4 separate regions of the Homo sapiens genome follow, and regions 2, 3 and 4 are each linked to region 1. Evidence: fine-mapped expression QTL. A gene starts in region 1. Each other region holds a variant in brackets. All regions are shown on one strand. Distances are from middle to middle.

What was found.
Region 2: its variant is fine-mapped to the expression of FRMD4A in tibial artery (GTEx, PIP 0.98).
Region 3: its variant is fine-mapped to the expression of FRMD4A in whole blood (TOPMed, PIP above 0.99).
Region 4: its variant is fine-mapped to the expression of FRMD4A in whole blood (TOPMed, PIP 0.99). The same link has a PIP of 0.9 or more in blood mononuclear cells.

What each region holds. Positions count from the first base shown.
Region 1 is chr10:14,328,397-14,332,560 of GRCh38, forward strand. FRMD4A (FERM domain containing 4A) reads right to left here and starts at 2,528. Exons shown (of 25, transcript NM_018027.5): 1 at 2,201-2,528; 2 at 1,662-1,787. The coding sequence starts at 1,706.
Region 2 is chr10:13,835,477-13,839,640 of GRCh38, forward strand. The region is part of intron 3 of FRMD4A (FERM domain containing 4A); the gene reads right to left. Among named protein-coding and RNA genes, the nearest start is that of FRMD4A-AS2, 150 kb to the right of the region's middle. The variant A/G (reference allele first, on the strand shown) is at 1,726.
Region 3 is chr10:13,702,451-13,706,614 of GRCh38, forward strand. All of the region lies in intron 13 of FRMD4A (FERM domain containing 4A), which reads right to left. Among named protein-coding and RNA genes, the nearest start is that of PRPF18, 120 kb to the left of the region's middle. The variant A/G (reference allele first, on the strand shown) is at 1,786.
Region 4 is chr10:14,007,276-14,011,439 of GRCh38, forward strand. All of the region lies in intron 2 of FRMD4A (FERM domain containing 4A), which reads right to left. It overlaps FRMD4A-AS2 (FRMD4A antisense RNA 2), which reads left to right. Exons shown (of 3, transcript NR_199003.1): 3 at 1-251. Among named protein-coding and RNA genes, the nearest start is that of FRMD4A-AS2, 18 kb to the left of the region's middle. The variant G/A (reference allele first, on the strand shown) is at 2,404.

The DNA of each region.
Region 1 (4,164 bases):
ATGGATGCTATTCATTTAATTTGGATACCAAGGATTCATGCTTAGGGGCTTGGAATAAAGCAGATACACATCTTTCTTCTAAGTATAGAAGAAAGGTCCAAGTAGGAGGCTGAGACAAGCGGGTCTAACTCTCCCTAAAGATATTTTTCAAGAAAACTTTTCTCCTCTATATTAACACGATGCAGGATTTATTTCTGTTAGTGTACTAGATAATATAATATACATATGCATGTGTGTGTGTGTGTGTGTGTGTGTGTGTGTGTGCATATGTGTGCCTGTATTTCAGAGCATATAACCCAGGCTCCCAGGTTCCCAGAAGTCTCCTAGACCCCATAGATAATGCATTTTAGTGCCAGCCATCATCACGAATACTCAGTGATGGAATGAAAATTCCTATCCAGTTTATTTGACCACAGGTAGACGATGGAGGATAAAGTATCATCAGACGATAGAATTAGTAAGGGAAAGAAGTCAGGTAATGGGTAATTTCTCTGGAAACTGACAATTTCATTTCTTCTAGTCCTACTCCCCCAGTGAAATGAGAAGTCAGCAGAGGCCCATGAGATAGATTTCAGGCAATTCAACTAAATCTGTGGACCCAGTGGAATTTTGAGCAACGAAGAACCAAGATATCTGTTCCTTTTAACATGACCTGGCTTGCCACCCAGGGGGCAGGCTTCCCACTGACGGCTCTTCCAAGTCACCTCCATAAACTCATCAGGCCTTGCAAAGTTGCATTTCCCCTCCTCATTCCGAAGACACAAATCAATATACACAGAAGCACTTATGCTTGGTTCATAAAATCTCCTGTGTAAATGCTGGAAACATTTCCATGCCAAGCCTGATGCAGGCTACTTCCGACAACAGCCAGTATTACCGTGGTGTGTGGGAACCCTGGGAAAGGAGAGAGATGCAAAACCATGGCAAAAGCCACTGCTGAACCTAGTGTCAAGCCAAAAGCCAATTGGGTTGGAACAAGACAGTGCCCATGTCCTTGTGTGCTTTAATATGGTAAGAGCTAGGGCTTTCTTAATATGGTGAAAATTCCAGAGGGGCATAAGGTGAGTCAGCTGCTCACACACAGATAAATGCCTGGACAAGTCCTGCCAAGGTTGGCCATCAATGGTAGATAGGAAACAAGCTGCTCCCAACTCAGTAGCCCAAGCATCACTGAAGCCACAGTGAACCTCCTCCACCACCTCTACAGGAAAGTATGAGCAGATATATGGGCGCCTAGAAAGAAGACCCCATTCTGTCACCCCATGGGCAACAGATTCCACAGTTGCCCTGAGAAGATATCCAAAAACAAACACAATCAGCTCAATTTAGATGCAAAAGACAAGGGGGAAAGGATGCTGGGAGCTGGAGGAGGCATCCTAGCAATCTATTTCGAGGGGCTCTTAGCACCTGTTTGCAAGCACAGCTCTCAAAATAGCATTCAGCAACAAGTTTCTGAAATGGCAAATCTACAGCTTCTTTTCCCTGCAAGTGCTTTGTCATGCTGATACTCTGACCCAAGAAAGCATTTCCAAAGAGCCTGCGGGATAAAGCGGAGCAATGTTGAACATGTCTGCAGCCACTGCAGCGGCAGCAGCAGCCCACGGTGCAGGGGAGGCTGGAGTGGACGCTGCCCGGGCCCCACCTCCTGTCTGAACACTCACCATCAGCAGGCCGAGAGCTGAGTCGGGCACCAGCTGCACTGCCATGGTCTCCGATTCCCATGCACGAATCCTGCTGCCGAGTCAGTCCTCCTGGGCCCCGGGTGGCTACAGAGCATCCAAAAGCACCTGCAGAAAAAGCAGCCAAAATCCAGACTTAGGGAGCAAAAGGCTCAAGGGGAAGATAGGCCACCTTTCACACAGGGTGGGGAGGAGGTCAGGGAAGACAGGGTGGGAACTGTGCTTAGGGAGGAAAAAAAAAAAAAGAAGAAGGAAAATAGGAAGCTGCAGGTTATTTAAAAGTGAGCCCTCCCTAGCTTCGCAAAGCGGCACAGACAGGGAGACCGCATCAAACACAAACGTGAAAGCTTAGAACACGGAATGTTTAACTGCTACCTTCGCCCTGGCAGCAATTCTTCCTTTAACTGACAATTAAAATAAAACATTCCCTATTGCAGATAAATCAAGCAGCCCGAGCCACCCCCTCTCTCTGCATCTCTCAGCAATTCTGCTGCATAAACATGCTGAATGTCACAACATACCGCTCGCAATCTGGTCAGTGTCTTCTTTGCTGCAGATAGGTGTGTCCCTTTTTGCAAAATCAGATATCTGGGAGTGAGACAGCCGAGTCTGACCATGAGGCACCAGGCAGTCACTGGAGATCAGCAAATGCCCTTACCATCCCCGAGGAGGAAGTCACTTAGGAACTGACCCTTCCACCTTCCCCAGATCTACTTTTCCTCTCCAAGTAGACTGGCCAGCTCAGCTCCCGGTAGGGCTAACATACTTAAGAGGAACATGGAATTGCACTGCCTGTTCTGTGAGCGTTCTGATCTCCCTGGCTGTACCACATGTACGCCGCATACAGACACACTCTACCTCTCTCTCCCTCCCTTCCTCCCGCCCTTCCTCCCTCCCATCCCTTCCCTCCCATCTCTCCACAGGGCTGCCTGTTAGGAATTTTGAAGGAGCCTCCCTAGTTCAGGGAGGCATAGGAGGTGAATTTGTCACAAGGGACACTGCTTAACAGGAAAAGGCAAGTTAGCCTTGAAAATCATATCATGCAGCATTTTCCCCGGAAGATGTCAATGAAGGGAGAAAGAAAAAACCTGCCGAATCTTGTTATATAATGGGTAGCTCAAAGGGCTTTCCAGAGTCAAAGACTTAAGAAAATTAGATATCTTTTCATGAGCACTGTCAAGCTTGTATCTTCTTCTGGAGTCCATGTATTCAACTAAAAATGGTTATTCCTGATACTTCTAGTATGTCCTTTTCTGATTTCTTCCTTTACTCACCTCCTGTAATGGCTCCAAAAAATCCTGAAAATTAACTAGACAGTGTGAAATGTAGAAACATAGAGAACAGTTTTCGAAATAAGAAACTAGGGGGAAGAAATTAATGACCTTTCATGTTCCTGTGCACGAGCATAGCTACTGTTCCTTTATTACTTATACTTTTAAAACTATTGATTTGGGCCAGGTATGGGAGCTCACACCTGCATTCCCAGCACTTCTGGGGGTTGAGGCAGGAAGATAGCTTGAGACCCAAAATTCAGGGTGAGCCTAGGCAACATAGCAAGACTTCATCTCTACAAAAAAAAAAAAAAAAAAGAAAAATAGAAATAAAAGAATTAGCCAAGCATGGTAGTGTGTGCCTAGAGTCTCAGCTACTTGGGAGGCTGAGGTGGGAGGATCAGTTCAGTCCAGGAGTTTAAGGCTGAAGGGAGCTATGACTGCACTCCTGCAATCCAGCCTGGGGGACAGAGCAAGACTCTGTCTCTAAAAAAATTTAAAAATAAAAAGTATTTGCTCATCACAGTGCTTAGCACAGAGTAAGTACTAAAATATATTCAATAAATGAGTGAAGGCTGGGTGCAATGGCTCACGCCTGTAGCCCCAGTACTTTGGGAGGCTGACGTGGGCAGATCACCTATGGTCAAGAGTTCAAGACCAGCCTGGTCAAGAGTTCAAGACCAGCCTGGTCAACATGGCAAAACCCTGTTCTATGAAAAACACAAAAATTAGCCGGGTGCGGTGGGCACCCGTGTTCCTAGATACTTGGGATACTGAGACAGGAGAATCGTTTGAACCTGGGAGGTAGAGGTTGCACTGTGGTGAGATCGCACCACTGCACTCCAGCCTGGGCAACAGAGCAAGGCTCTGTCTCAAAATAAAAAAAAAAAGAAAAGAAAAGAATAAAACAAAATAAAATAAGTGAGTGAAAAATTTTCTCCCATTTTGTTTTTCCTATAGTGGCCCAATGAGCTTGAACCTTGATTCCACAGTGTGTGGATGGAGTCTCATGTTACTGATCCCCGGAACACCAGAGCAACCCTCCTTGCCAGCAGGTGCCTGGAGATTCAAAGCATGACTTGAGTCGCATGCATGTGGCCTTGCACAGAACTGTCAGGACATTCTGACTGTGCTGGTGGATTGCAATACTATTCAAAATAATATGTATAGTCACATTTGAAAAATAATAACAATGATTTAAGGAACAGGTCTAT
Region 2 (4,164 bases), 490 kb before region 1:
GAGAGTGAGTGAAGCTTCATCTGTATTTATAGCAGCTCCCCATCGCGCATTATTGCCTGAGTTCCACCTCCCTTCAGATCAGTGGTGGCATTAGATACTCATAGGAGTATGAACCCTATTGTGAACTGTGCATGCGAGCTATCTGGGTTGTGTGCTCCATCAGGTGTCTAATGCCTGATGATGTGTCACTGTCTCCCATCACCCCCAGATGGGACAGTCTAGTTGCAAGAAAATAAGTTCAGGGCTCCCACTGATAGGACATTATGGTAAGTTGTAGAATTATTTCATTAGATACTACAATATAATAATAGAAATAAAGTGCACAAGAAATGTAATGTGCTTGAATCATCCCCAAACCATCCCCCTCCCCCTTTCACCAGTCTGGAAAAATTGTCTTCCTTCAAACAGGTCCCTGGTGCCAAAAAGGTTGGGGACCATTGTATTATTATTTTTATTCATTAATTCACTAAGTATTTAGAGAGTGTCTACTATGAGCCTGGCACTAAACACTTCAGCAGAGAATTCAAGATTTTGTTTTTGAGATGGAGTCTTACTCTGTTGCCCAGGCTGGAGTGCAGTGGCACGATCTCAGCTCACTGCAGCCTCTGCCTCCCGGGTTCAAGGGATTCTCCTGCTTCAGCCTCCTGAGTAGCTGGGACTACACGTGTGAGCTACCACACCTGGCTAATTTCTGTATTTGTAGTAGAGACGGGGTTTTGCCATGTTGGCCAGGCTGGTCTTGAACTCCTGACCTCAGGTGATCCACCTGCTTTGGCCTCCCAAAGTGCTGGGATTACAGGTGTGAGCCAAAGCACCGGGCCAGGATTTTGGTTATTCTTTAAGGGATGGACATCAGTCTGTCTTGGAAGAAACTCTCATAGCACTCATCTGACATTTTGGTCACACCACAGCCCAAAGCATTTTTATGTCATTTCCTTGATCTTGGTAGTTTTCCTGGGAAGGAAAAAGAGGTGGTACAGAAATTGACAATTCTTTGGGGGGCGCGGGGAGGAAACAGAGAAACAGAAATGCGAAGTGGCTTGTTTGGAGCCACCCGTTACCCCTAGTAGAGCTGGAATAGGTCTCACATGGTCTTGACAGAGCCAGTTATAGCACTTCCCAGAGTGTTAATTACATCGGGTCCTTGTTCCTCCACAACTGAAGAAGTCACATACCCCAAAATGAGTTTGTGGCCCAGGAGGGAGGGTTTTTCATGGCAAGGAGGGCCTGGAAAGACTGACTAACCAGGGGTCTTCACTCCAGGGTTCCTCAGTGGTTCTTTTTTTTTTTTTTTTTTTTGAGACGGAGTCTCGCTCTGTCGCCAAGGCTGGAGTGCAGTGGCACGATCTGGGCTCACTGCAAGCTCTGCCTCCTGGGTTCACGCCATTCTCCTGCCTCAGCCTCCCCAGTAGCTGGGACTACAGGCACCCGCCACCACGCCCGGCTAATTTTTTGTATTTTTAGTAGAGACGGGGTTTCACCGTGTTAGCCAGGACGGTCTCGAGCTCCTGACCTCATGATCTGCCTGCCTCAGCCTCTCAAAGTGCTGGGATTACAGGCATGAGCCACCGCACCCGGCCGGTTCCTCAGTGGTTCTTAAGCAAATGTGCCCACATCTCACATGGGAACACATGGTGAGGATGGTGAGGCATTTCCCAAACTTACTTGACGCAGACCCCTCTCCAGCACATTTTTGGAAATACTGGCTCCAGAAATGCTTTCCTC[A/G]AGGGGGTTGCTCTTTGAGACAACCACCCAAAATTACAAATACCAGTTTAAACTGCCCTAACTGCTGCCTTTCTCCCTCCCTTAATATGGTCAGTGAGCTGCAAAGAAACTTCTCCCAAAGCCTACTGGGCCGAGCCCAGCAAGGTTCAGGGGCCCTGACACTTGGATTCTGGAGTCCTGATTGGGCCTCGAGTGCTGGCCTCTCCCATGACAAGCCCTGAGAAGCCAAGAATTCCAGCCAAGATTCCTGACCTTGTTTAATGAAACTGTTTAGAGCTTTCCACAGATCAGAAAGCTGGCAGTGGGGAGACTACAGCAGTTACAAAAGATCACGGGGTCACATTTGCAGCCACTGTACTTTTTCTAACAGTTGGCCAGATGAGGCAGCTTCTAATTTCTTATCCACTCAGGCAATGTCATTACTCAAGGTCCATCTCATCTCTTTGTGGGCACCAGTATGTTCACAGGTACACTGACTGACAGTGCAACCTTGCATTCAACAAGAAGATGTGAATATTGTACCATCATGCACTACGCCCAGCTTTCCTCCATCCAATCCCAATCCCACTCCTCTTCTGCAAGTTGTACCCTTAACACACACATCTCTGGTTGCACAGAACTGTTGGGTTCGATATTTTCTATCTTCCCTTCATTTCCTCACTCTCTTCTTCCTGCTTCCTGTTCTGATGACATGACAGCAATCAGGAATCTGGTGGCTACTATGGTGACCTGCCCAATGAAGACCTCTTAAGGGGATGGAGGAAGAAAGCAGGCTTAGCTCTTCTAGAACCTTCCTTTCCATGAAAAACAGGGCACACCTTTTCTTCTCTAATCATCTCCCTATTTAACACATCACAGGAAAGATTGCTGAATTACAACGTGCTATCTCTTTATTTAGTTATTTAGAGGTAGGATCTTGCTCTGTTGCCCAGGCCTGAGTGCAGTGGCGTGATCATAGCTCACTGAAGCCTCTACCTCCTGGGCTCAAGCCATCCTGCCTCAGGCTTCCCAGTAGCTGGGACTACAGACGTGCACCACCATGCAGAGCTAATTTTTTTTTTTTTTTTTTTTTTTAGAAATGGGGATCTCCCTGTGTTGCCCAGGCTGTTCACAAACTCATGGGCCTAAATGATCCTCCTGCCTTGCCCTCCCAATGTGTTGGGATTACAGGCATGAACTACCACGCCCAGCCACAATGTGCCATTTATGATCTCCTTTTGTAAACTTGTCTCTTGCTGCTCTGCTTCTCAGTTTGTTGCATTGCTTCCTCTCTGTTCTGTTTTCTTCCCCCTCCCTCCCTTTTTTTTTTGAGATTGAGTCTCGCTCTGTTGCCCAGGCTGGAGTGTAGTGGCACGATCTTGCCCCACTGCAACCTCTGCCTCATGGGTTCAAGCAATTCTGGTGCCTCAGCCTCCCAAGTAGCTGGGATTACAGGCATGTGCCACCACGCCCAGCTAATTGTTGTATTTTTAGTAGAGACGGGGTTTCACCATGTTGGCCAGGCTAGCCTCAAACTTCTAACCTCAAGTGATACGCCTGCCTCAGCCTCCCAAAGTGCTGAGATTACAGGCGTGAGCCACCGCGCCTGCCTATGTTCTGTTTGCTACATACCTTACAATATGGACCTTAGACTGTAAGTTCCTGGGAGATGGGGACATTGCCCGTTTTCTTTATTATACAGTCTAAAATACTGACCTTAACCAGGACATTGAATAAAAACCATCCAATGATGATTAAGATAAATGCAATGATTAATATGACTTTAGGGCTTGGCTGGAAGAATAATTTCCTTTTTTTTTTTTTTTTTTTTTTAGAGATAGGGTCTTGCTCTGTCACTCAGGCTGGAGTACAGTGGTGGATCTTGGCTTACTACAGCCTTGAACTCTTGGGCTCAAGTGATCCTCCCACCTCAGTCTTCTTAGTAGCTGGTACTACAGGTGCATGCCACCACACCTAGCTAATTAAAATTTTTGTTTGTTTGTTTTTTAGAGATGGGGTCTTGCTGTCCTGCCCAGGCTGCTCTTGAACTCTTGGCCTTCAGCAATCCTCCCACCTTGGCCTCTCAAAGTTCTAGAATTACAGGTGTGAGCCACCACATCCAGCCAGGACCACCATTTCTAAAGGCATTTTGGGAAAATCACCATTTATTTAATTATCCACCTGAACAGGAGACTAAAGAAATTATAGTTTTTGAGAAAATGCTTTCTGAGTGATCCTCCTCTGTGGTCATCTCTGCCAACAGGATTCCTGCCATAAAACGTGCACCAGAGTAATGCAGAGGGCATCTGTAGATGTAGTTGTAAAGTCCTAAGGTTTTCACTGAGACCCCAGTTAAGTTGGCTTTGGGTACCATTGGCGTCCTCCTGTTTTCTTTCTCCTTTCAGCTTGTACAACACTGAGAGCTTAAGACACATGGACTTTTCCAGATTGCCACATGGT
Region 3 (4,164 bases), 630 kb before region 1:
GGGGAGTTATATGGTCATGCTCTTAGTGAAGTATATTTTATAGGATAGGCAGATTATTTTGCAAATGAAATCTAAGAATGTGTGTTTGCATGTGTGTGTGTGTGTGTGTGTGTGTGTGCGCATGCATGTGAGACAAGTTGACAGGAAGGTGGGCTGGGATTTGGGGCATTTTACATGGACATCAGAAACAAAATGTATGTTCTCAAGACTAACATATCTAATTTGGAAGAAACCTGGGGGTAATCAGGACTTACAAACAATAACATTTTTTTTCATGGCTAATTTTCCCTTAAAGAAAACAAAGCTGCCAGCAATATCTTACTTTGGGCGGGGGTCGGGGGTGCTAAAGATTTAAAGTGGAGTCTTGTTCACCCTCACTTTTAAGGAGAAATTCAGATCCGGTGGTTAATGTTACTGAGTCCACACAGGTTTTTTCTCCCTTCGGTTCCAACAAAAGTGAAGGAAAAAAAAAAAAAAAAAAGCCAGAGCGTGAAAGAGCACACAGTTGAAAATAATTGAAAAAAGGAGCCAGGGAGAGAGCGAGGGGGAGATCCCTCGCCAGTCTCTCTAAATTTAAAAGAAAACAGGGATCTGTGCTCCCAGCTTGGCTTCCATAGCAGTTCTTGCTCTTGGAAATAAATGAATGACTTTTTTTTCCCCCCAGAAAAGCTGAATTAGACAAGAACAGTATCTTGAAAGGTGGTGCAAGGCTAGGTACCTCCATTTCTCAGGTACCGGGAGGGCAGAAGAGGTAAGTGGCTGGTCAGGTCCGGGTAGTTCCCCGGAGCATCTAAATCAGATACTCAGAGTTCTTCTCCTGCTCTATCATTACTTTATCTCCTCTCCTCATCTTTCGCTTCAAGCCCTTCCTATTTTACCCAAACCGTAGAAGTGAAATATTGGCCCAGCCTGGAGAAGCTCAGAAATGAAGCTAAGCATTGAGTTAGGATGCCCAGGGGGAGAAAGTGCACAGTGTTGTCCAGTGCCCCACAGGGAATGGTGCAATCACACCTGAGCCCATCGGCCCAGAAAGCAGCCTCTGCCCTGAATCATTCCCATCGATTACATCTTCATTAAATGACCGTATCTGGCGTTGCCCATCCTATTACTGCAGTTCTGACTGCCTTCCTGGCTTGGGGGAGGGGCTGAGCCCGGAACACCAAACTAACGTGAGGCCAATCACATTCCTCTTCCCTACCTCAAATAAGCAAGGCCACAAGCAATAGGATGACACATTCAACTTAAAAAGCACCGCGAGGTTCACTTCAAAGTAACTGGAAGAGAGGACTTGCAATGATACCAACATAAAAATAGTAAACACTGAGGCGGGTGGATCACGAGGTCAAGAGATTGAGACCATCCTGGCCAACGTGATGAAATCCCATCTCTACTAAAAATAAAAAAATTAGCTGGGTGTAGTGGCGCACGCCTGTAGTCCCAGCTACTTGGGAGGCTGAGGCAGGAGAATTGCTTGAACCTGGAAGGTGGAGGGTGCAGTGAGCCGAGATGGCGCCACTGCATTCCAGCCTGGGGACAAAGTGAGACTCTGTCTCAAAAAACAAAACAAACAAACAAACAAAAAAACACTCAAGGCCATGGATACCCCACGTACCCTGCCTTGATCATTCCATGTTCTATGCATGTAACGCACTCACACGTGGCTCATGAATACGTGAAATAGTAACTCTCAATACAAGAGAAAAAAGGCACCACTAGGATGTGAAAAAGAGAACTGAGTGCAAGAAAGATCTTACAGCTCATAGCTCTGGCTCTGCCATGCTAAAT[A/G]ACTGACCTGAAGCCATTTCCTTTCCTTGTGTGTCTTTAATGCTGAAGTCATCCCGGGTCTCCACCTCTGGCCTCCCTGGGCCTCTCCCCCATTCCTGCCTGTCTGCAGGCTAACTCAGTGTACTCAGAGCGAGTTTGCCTGGGACGAGACAGCTCTGCTTCTTCCTCTGGGCTCCTCCAACTCCCACTTCCCTCCAGCCAGACCCTCCCTCATTTGTTTATCCTAATTGAGAAGCCCCCACCTGACATCTATATCCCCCTGAGGCCCTACCACGTGGCTTTAATCCTAGTTACCCCTCCAGGTCCAACTCAGACCTCTCCTTCCTGGTAAGCCTCTCCCTTCCTGACCAGCCAGGCCTCTGGTGACCCTGTCCTTCACCCTTCATGGCCCACGACGTCTGGCCCTTCTGTACAGTATAGAGATAAAGGGCATGAGCTCTGGAGCCAGACCTCCTAGGTTCAAATCCTGCCTCTCCTGTATACTAGCTACTTGTCGTCTAGAGCAGGTTTCTTTGTTTCTTGTGACACTCCATGAGTTCCTTCTTCTCAGCCAGGTTCCAGGCAGTGGCTCACGCCTGTAATCCCAGCACTTTGAGAGGCCAAGATGGGAGGATTGCTTGAGCTTGGGAATTTGAGACCAGCCTGGGCAACACTGTGAGACCCAGTCTCTCCAAAAAAAAAAAAAAGCTGGGTACGGTGGTGTGTACCTATAGTCCCAGCTACTCGGGAGGCTGAGGCTGAGGTGGGAGAATTGCTTGAGCCTGGAAGGTGGAGGCTGCAGTGAGCTATGATTGCACCACTGCATTCCAGCATGGGCGACAGAATGAGACCGTGTCTCAAAATAAAAGTTCCTTCTTCTGCCTGTCTTCTCAGTTACACTAGAAGATCTTTAAGGAAGAAGACCCTGCCTCCGACTTCCTTCCTTCCCCGCCACAGCACCCGACAAGGACACAGAAGCTTCGCAAGAAACATGACATTGATCACTGCTGTCTAATAGGCGACAGGCCCACTGAATAGTCACGTGTGAGATCTAGATTCTTTCCTATATCCCTGGGCTTTGGTAAAGAGAGTTTAGCAGTACTCACCAATAGGGCGACAGACGCACAGAGAACACGAACACACATGTGCAGATATATGCGTGCGTGGTTAAAGGATTTGTCCAAGGTGCCTGGGTGTTCACTGAATTCCCAGCAGAGCACAGGCATGGCGGAGGGTCTATTCCCTGCGCTCAGCCCCTTAGATTACCCAGCCCCTCATTTTTATCCTATGGAGCATCCCCTTTCTGCATCTGACCCATTGTGGCAAAGTTCATTTCACTCTTTCTGTACTTAAATTTCCCCTCTCTTACATGCCTAAGAACCTGGTCCAATTCAGTTCACCTGGAAAATGAACAGTGAGTTTCTTCTTGGCTGGAATCTTATTTTTGAAATCTCCCCGCCCACCCCACTTGGCCTGCACAGATGGATCTGTGCTCCATGGAGTGGGGCTTCTGGCCGCGAAACCCCTTGCAGGGCCCTGAGAAACACCGGATAAAATATTTTTCTGTTAAAGGCTACCATTTTCACCTGACTGTGGAGATGCAGAAACTCTCAGCTGCTCTCCACTAACTATTCCTGTAGTAACCGTGGTGCTGAGATAAGCTCTTGCCCTACACAGGAGTGGCTGTTTCAGGCAGATTACCCTGGAGGGCAAGCACGGCTTCATTCCTACCGGGTTATCATGGGCTGCAGGAACAGGGGCTACTGCACAGGTCCAAGCCCTCTCACTGGGCGGGGTAACTCCAAATCTCCCTCCTGTCCAGAGCTCATGGGGAGGGACTGCAGCTTGTTTTGAGCATCAGAAGCCATGTGTGAGCTGGAATTGGTGCCAAGTCCTCCTTCTAAGCCCAGGGCTGGAGCGTCAACAGCGCCTAAAACCCACTTTTGCTCCTCTGTAGAGTCTGATCTTTTTTCTGTCTCCCTGGGGCTACCTTCTTATTGTAAATGTCTCTGACCTTATGGAAAGTGATTTCTTAGTTGTCAGGCCTGGTTTTAGGGAATTACGCTGCTGTTTTTGGGGATGCATATAACTTTAGGTCCAGCGGCAGACAAAGAGAGGAAAACAGTGGGTATGAGCTGCCCAGACCCCAGCCACCTGGGGCTCCCTGCATTCCAACCTGGGGCCCCACTGTCTTGCATCTGACTTAAGAGTACAGGGACTTTTTACAACCCTGGTGCTCTCTGGGGTACGATTTTGGGTGGAGGGAAAAATAATTTCATTTCTTTCACATCCACCCACAATACTAACATCCTAAAATTACAGCTCCTGGAATAAAACAACGTAGCACAACTGCTTTGGTGACAAATTCATTTTCGCATTGACCGTCCTGCCTGAAATACT
Region 4 (4,164 bases), 320 kb before region 1:
GTTTCTGAGACCAACAGAACCACCATATACTTTGTGGGTGTAGGGATTCTCCCTGCATGTTGAGCCTGTCACCCTAATGACAACCAGCTTTGCATTAACTAGAGTCAGCCCCAAAAATGCATCTGTTACTCCAGAGAAGGACAAATCCTTATTATTACTTTATAGGATTTTCTCTACTAGGGGCTTCCATAAAGTAAACATGCTTTCAGGAAATTAACAGAGTAATTTTAAGCCAAAATCCATAGCATTAAAAACAAATAAACCCCAAATGATAGCAATGTATTTGGGGGGAAAAAAGCATGTAATCAACTGCCTGCATAATTTAAACTACCAAAGCTTTGAAGCTCCTTAACATCACCATCACCTCCCTTTTAGACACTGTCACCCAGTAGAAGAAATTCACAGCCCTGCTGCTCTAATGAGTATGTTTCAGTAAACACAGAAGAAATCATTTTCACAGCCCCCATGCATTTCTCAGCAAGCACTCAAATCTTTCAAACCCATTCCAGGGGGAAGTTTCCATCCCAATCTTTTCCCTCATATTTCATCTCTAAGAGCACCCCTCCCCCATCTGAGATCCACAAGTTACAAAAATTACTGTTTCAGGTTTCTCATCATTATCTGTTAAAAAACTAAAATTACAGATGAGATAGTATTCTACAGTCCCAGGAACTCCAACTGTTCAGGAAACGTGAGTAACAGAAGTAACGCGGTATACAATGAAAACAAACATCTTCCTGTCTTTGGAGCAACTGAGAAGCAAACAACCCGCCACGTAGCTTACCCTTTCAACGCTGCGCCTTCTCAGAGATCCATAAGGAATTTTCAGTAAAAGTCTTTGGGATCTATTCGGAGCCACTGCAGCCTGAACCACCATGGTGTACAGCTGTGTGTGTGTGTGTGTGTGTGTGTGTGTGTGTGTGTGTGTGTGTGTGTTCCCAGCAAAGGGAGAGAAGGAGCCTCCCTCAAAAATAAGTTATGGTCTCCTGGAGGGTTCCCAAATATCAAATAACTGAAAGAGTTTTTCTTTCGACCATCTGAGTCAAGATGTGGTTTGTCAGGAGGAGGGGGGATGGGAAGAAAGAAAACCAGCCCAAGTTCTGCAACTTCAGCGCCCACGAAGCAGCATCTCTAGCTTTCTTCCATCTGTCCCTCTGCACAGCTGGCTCAGCGAGACTGCCGTGTCCCGCTTGTGGGCAAGTGACGCGTCTGGGGAGAGTGATCCAGAAATGTCAACTTTGCTTCTCGTGGCTGCAGATGGTAATCAGGTCAGTTGTCTAATCAAAGCTCTATCAGACGTATTATTCATTCCATCACGTGACTCCCAAGCCCCTCGGCCGTACAGTAGGTCACATGCTCACCTTAAAAAGACTATTTGGAATATCACCATCTGGAGTGGAGATTAATGCAGAATCCTACACTCTGATTTCACTCCCTTCTGAACGGAGGAACAATATCTGAAGACCACAGACAGAACACATCAGGGACCTCTTTGAAATCATAAATTCTATCTATAAAACTGAGCATCAGACATGCGTATCTGTTTACCCTTCCTGCTTTCTAACGCATAAAAATAAACGCACGGGTATTACTCACTGTATATGTGAATACAGTCCACAGAGAGAAAGTATGAGGGAAAGAAGAAGAAACTGTTGCAATCACATGGTTCAGATGAATCAAATCAAATCGAACAGGCTTGTGTTTGGCACCTTCTCATTTAAATGTTTGTGTTATAGAACATTTATTTTTACGTGTGCCAGTAAACAAGAAGAAATTATGTTTCGTTTTACACGGCTGTGTCGAAGCAGATTCATCCATCACGTCTGTCAATTATTTTCTGATCATATTGTGTAATTTCAGATCACACAGCCTTCTTTGATGGATGGCATAAATGGTCTCAAACGTTAACTTTTCTGTAATATTTTCCCCTACCTTCCCCATCTCTACTCCTCCTGAAATCGGCTTATTTCCATAGCAGAAAAAATTACTACAAAGAAAATCAAGTAAGGTGCTTCCAGGATATGGGGTATGTTTGGGTTTTTTTTTTCTTTTTCTTTTTAAAGCATTTCTACATACACTGCTTCTGTCTGTTCTGAGTTTTATGAAAGGGATGGCCATTTCCTTTGTAATCATCCCGTGGTTTTTGGTATTAGCCTTGATACCACTCATACGCTCTGGGCACCAGCTTTGAGACACTGTCTGCAGACCAGTGTGCTTACTTCATTGAAAATGACGGAAATGAAGGTTCTGTTTATTCAAACACACCTAATAGGAAATGGGGGTGGGGTGCGAAGGAAAGAAGCAGAGTTTTGTACTATGAGAAAATGAATCAGAAGAAAGAGGCGAAGGGTGCCACGGCGGCGGCAGCAGCGCACGGGCTGGAAACCTGGGTTCAGCCCTCCA[G/A]CGCAGACACACATCACGAGTCAGTTAAAGAAAGCATCAGGTTGATGTGGGAAATTCCAAATATACAACAATTGGGCTTTGTTCGTAATTGGTTCCATGTGTGCAGTAGGAGAGTCAGTGAGAGGGTGAGAGAGACGGGGAGACGGAAACCTCTTAACCACGGCTCACACGGCGTCTTTGGTGAGGTGGTTTAGGTTTACATCTCTTTTTTCTCTCTTTCTTGCTTCTTGCCTGCACTGCCTGGTTTCAGAGCATTGGCGGGGGGTGGGAAAAAATCTGGAACGATACCCGATGATTGAGCCAAAGCAAGAGAAACTCATTTCTTTGTAAAACTGCACTTGACGTTGTAACGGTTTTGAACAAAGGATAGGCACACTTTCAGAACACTTTATCTGTTGAGAGTCACGGCATGTCATTCTTCCAGCTCAGTTTTGGGGTCGGTGGGGGGGACAATGATGAGATGGACTGAGAAGCCACTGTCCTCTTCTCTGACCCAGGCCAGGGCAAAGCCCCGGGGAGCTGAATTTATTTACATTTGACTAAATGCAACTTCCTGTTTCCCAGGGGTATTAATGAGTGTTTCACTGTGGAGCTTAGGCTTATGGCATAGTTCAGATCATAAGGGACATTTTGATGAACTAAGTGCAAATAAAACAAAAACACATGCATTTGATTAAGGTTAAAATACATATAGAAGAGAATGTTAATGGTAACAAAAATAACCCTGGGCCAGACTCCCACACATCTGAGTCTCACACATTCCACATCCTTCCCTTGGGAGGCGGGGAGAAGGATCACTTTTCATATTAGCACAAAAGCCTCCTCCCAGATAATGGAGCCCTCCCCAGTCCCCGCGGAGTAGGTGACCCCCTCCTTGGAGTGATTTCAAGGCTCTCAAAGGTTGCTGGTCCAAAAATATCTTTCTGATTGTCTTGCCATGGGTGTCGGAGACTTACATATTCAAAATTAATTGTCGAGTTTAGGTCTTTTTTTTTTTTTTTTTTTTTTTTAAATAGAGACAGGGTCTCACTATATTGCTCAGGGTGGTCTTGAACTCCTGGGCTCAAGCAATCTCCTCGCTTCGGCCCCCCAAAGTGCTAGGATTACAGGCATGAGCCACCATGCCTGGCCAAGTATTTCTTTCCATTGTTAGAATACAAATATGTTTCCCCGGAAGGGATATGCATTCATACTCTCACAGTTATGACCACTTTAGGAGAAGCAAGGGGAATGAATGTTCACTGAGCACCTACCCATTGGCAGGCCATGTGCTGTGAGGTTATCAAAGGCTACTTCCATGGAGGAAATGCGTTTCATTATCCCTGTTTCAGTGGTGAAGAAACTGGTGCTCAGAGGGGCTTAGTAAGTTGGCCAAGGCAGCACAGCTAGAAATGTCAGAGCTAGGATGAAAACCAAAGTCAACTGGTGTGATTTCAGGGCCCAGCTTGCCTGTCCTACAGGACTTTATCAGATTACAGCAGTTTGGAAATCCCAAAGGAAGATACATCCATTGAACCCAACAGGAAAATGGAAAACTCTGTCTTTGAAAAGAAGAGAATGTCAATATAGGAAATTGTTAGATTGAGCAATTTTAGAGTTTCTGGAGCTGCTGCTTTGATGTCACCAGGAGTTGGGCACAGGGGACGGAGGGGCTAAGAACCACAAAGGGGGAGGCAGGGAGGCTGGCCTAAGGGGTCAAGGGAGGAGCCGAGTTATTAGAGCCAGGGGCCAGGTCACCTAGTGGAGTCTAGAACCTTGGAG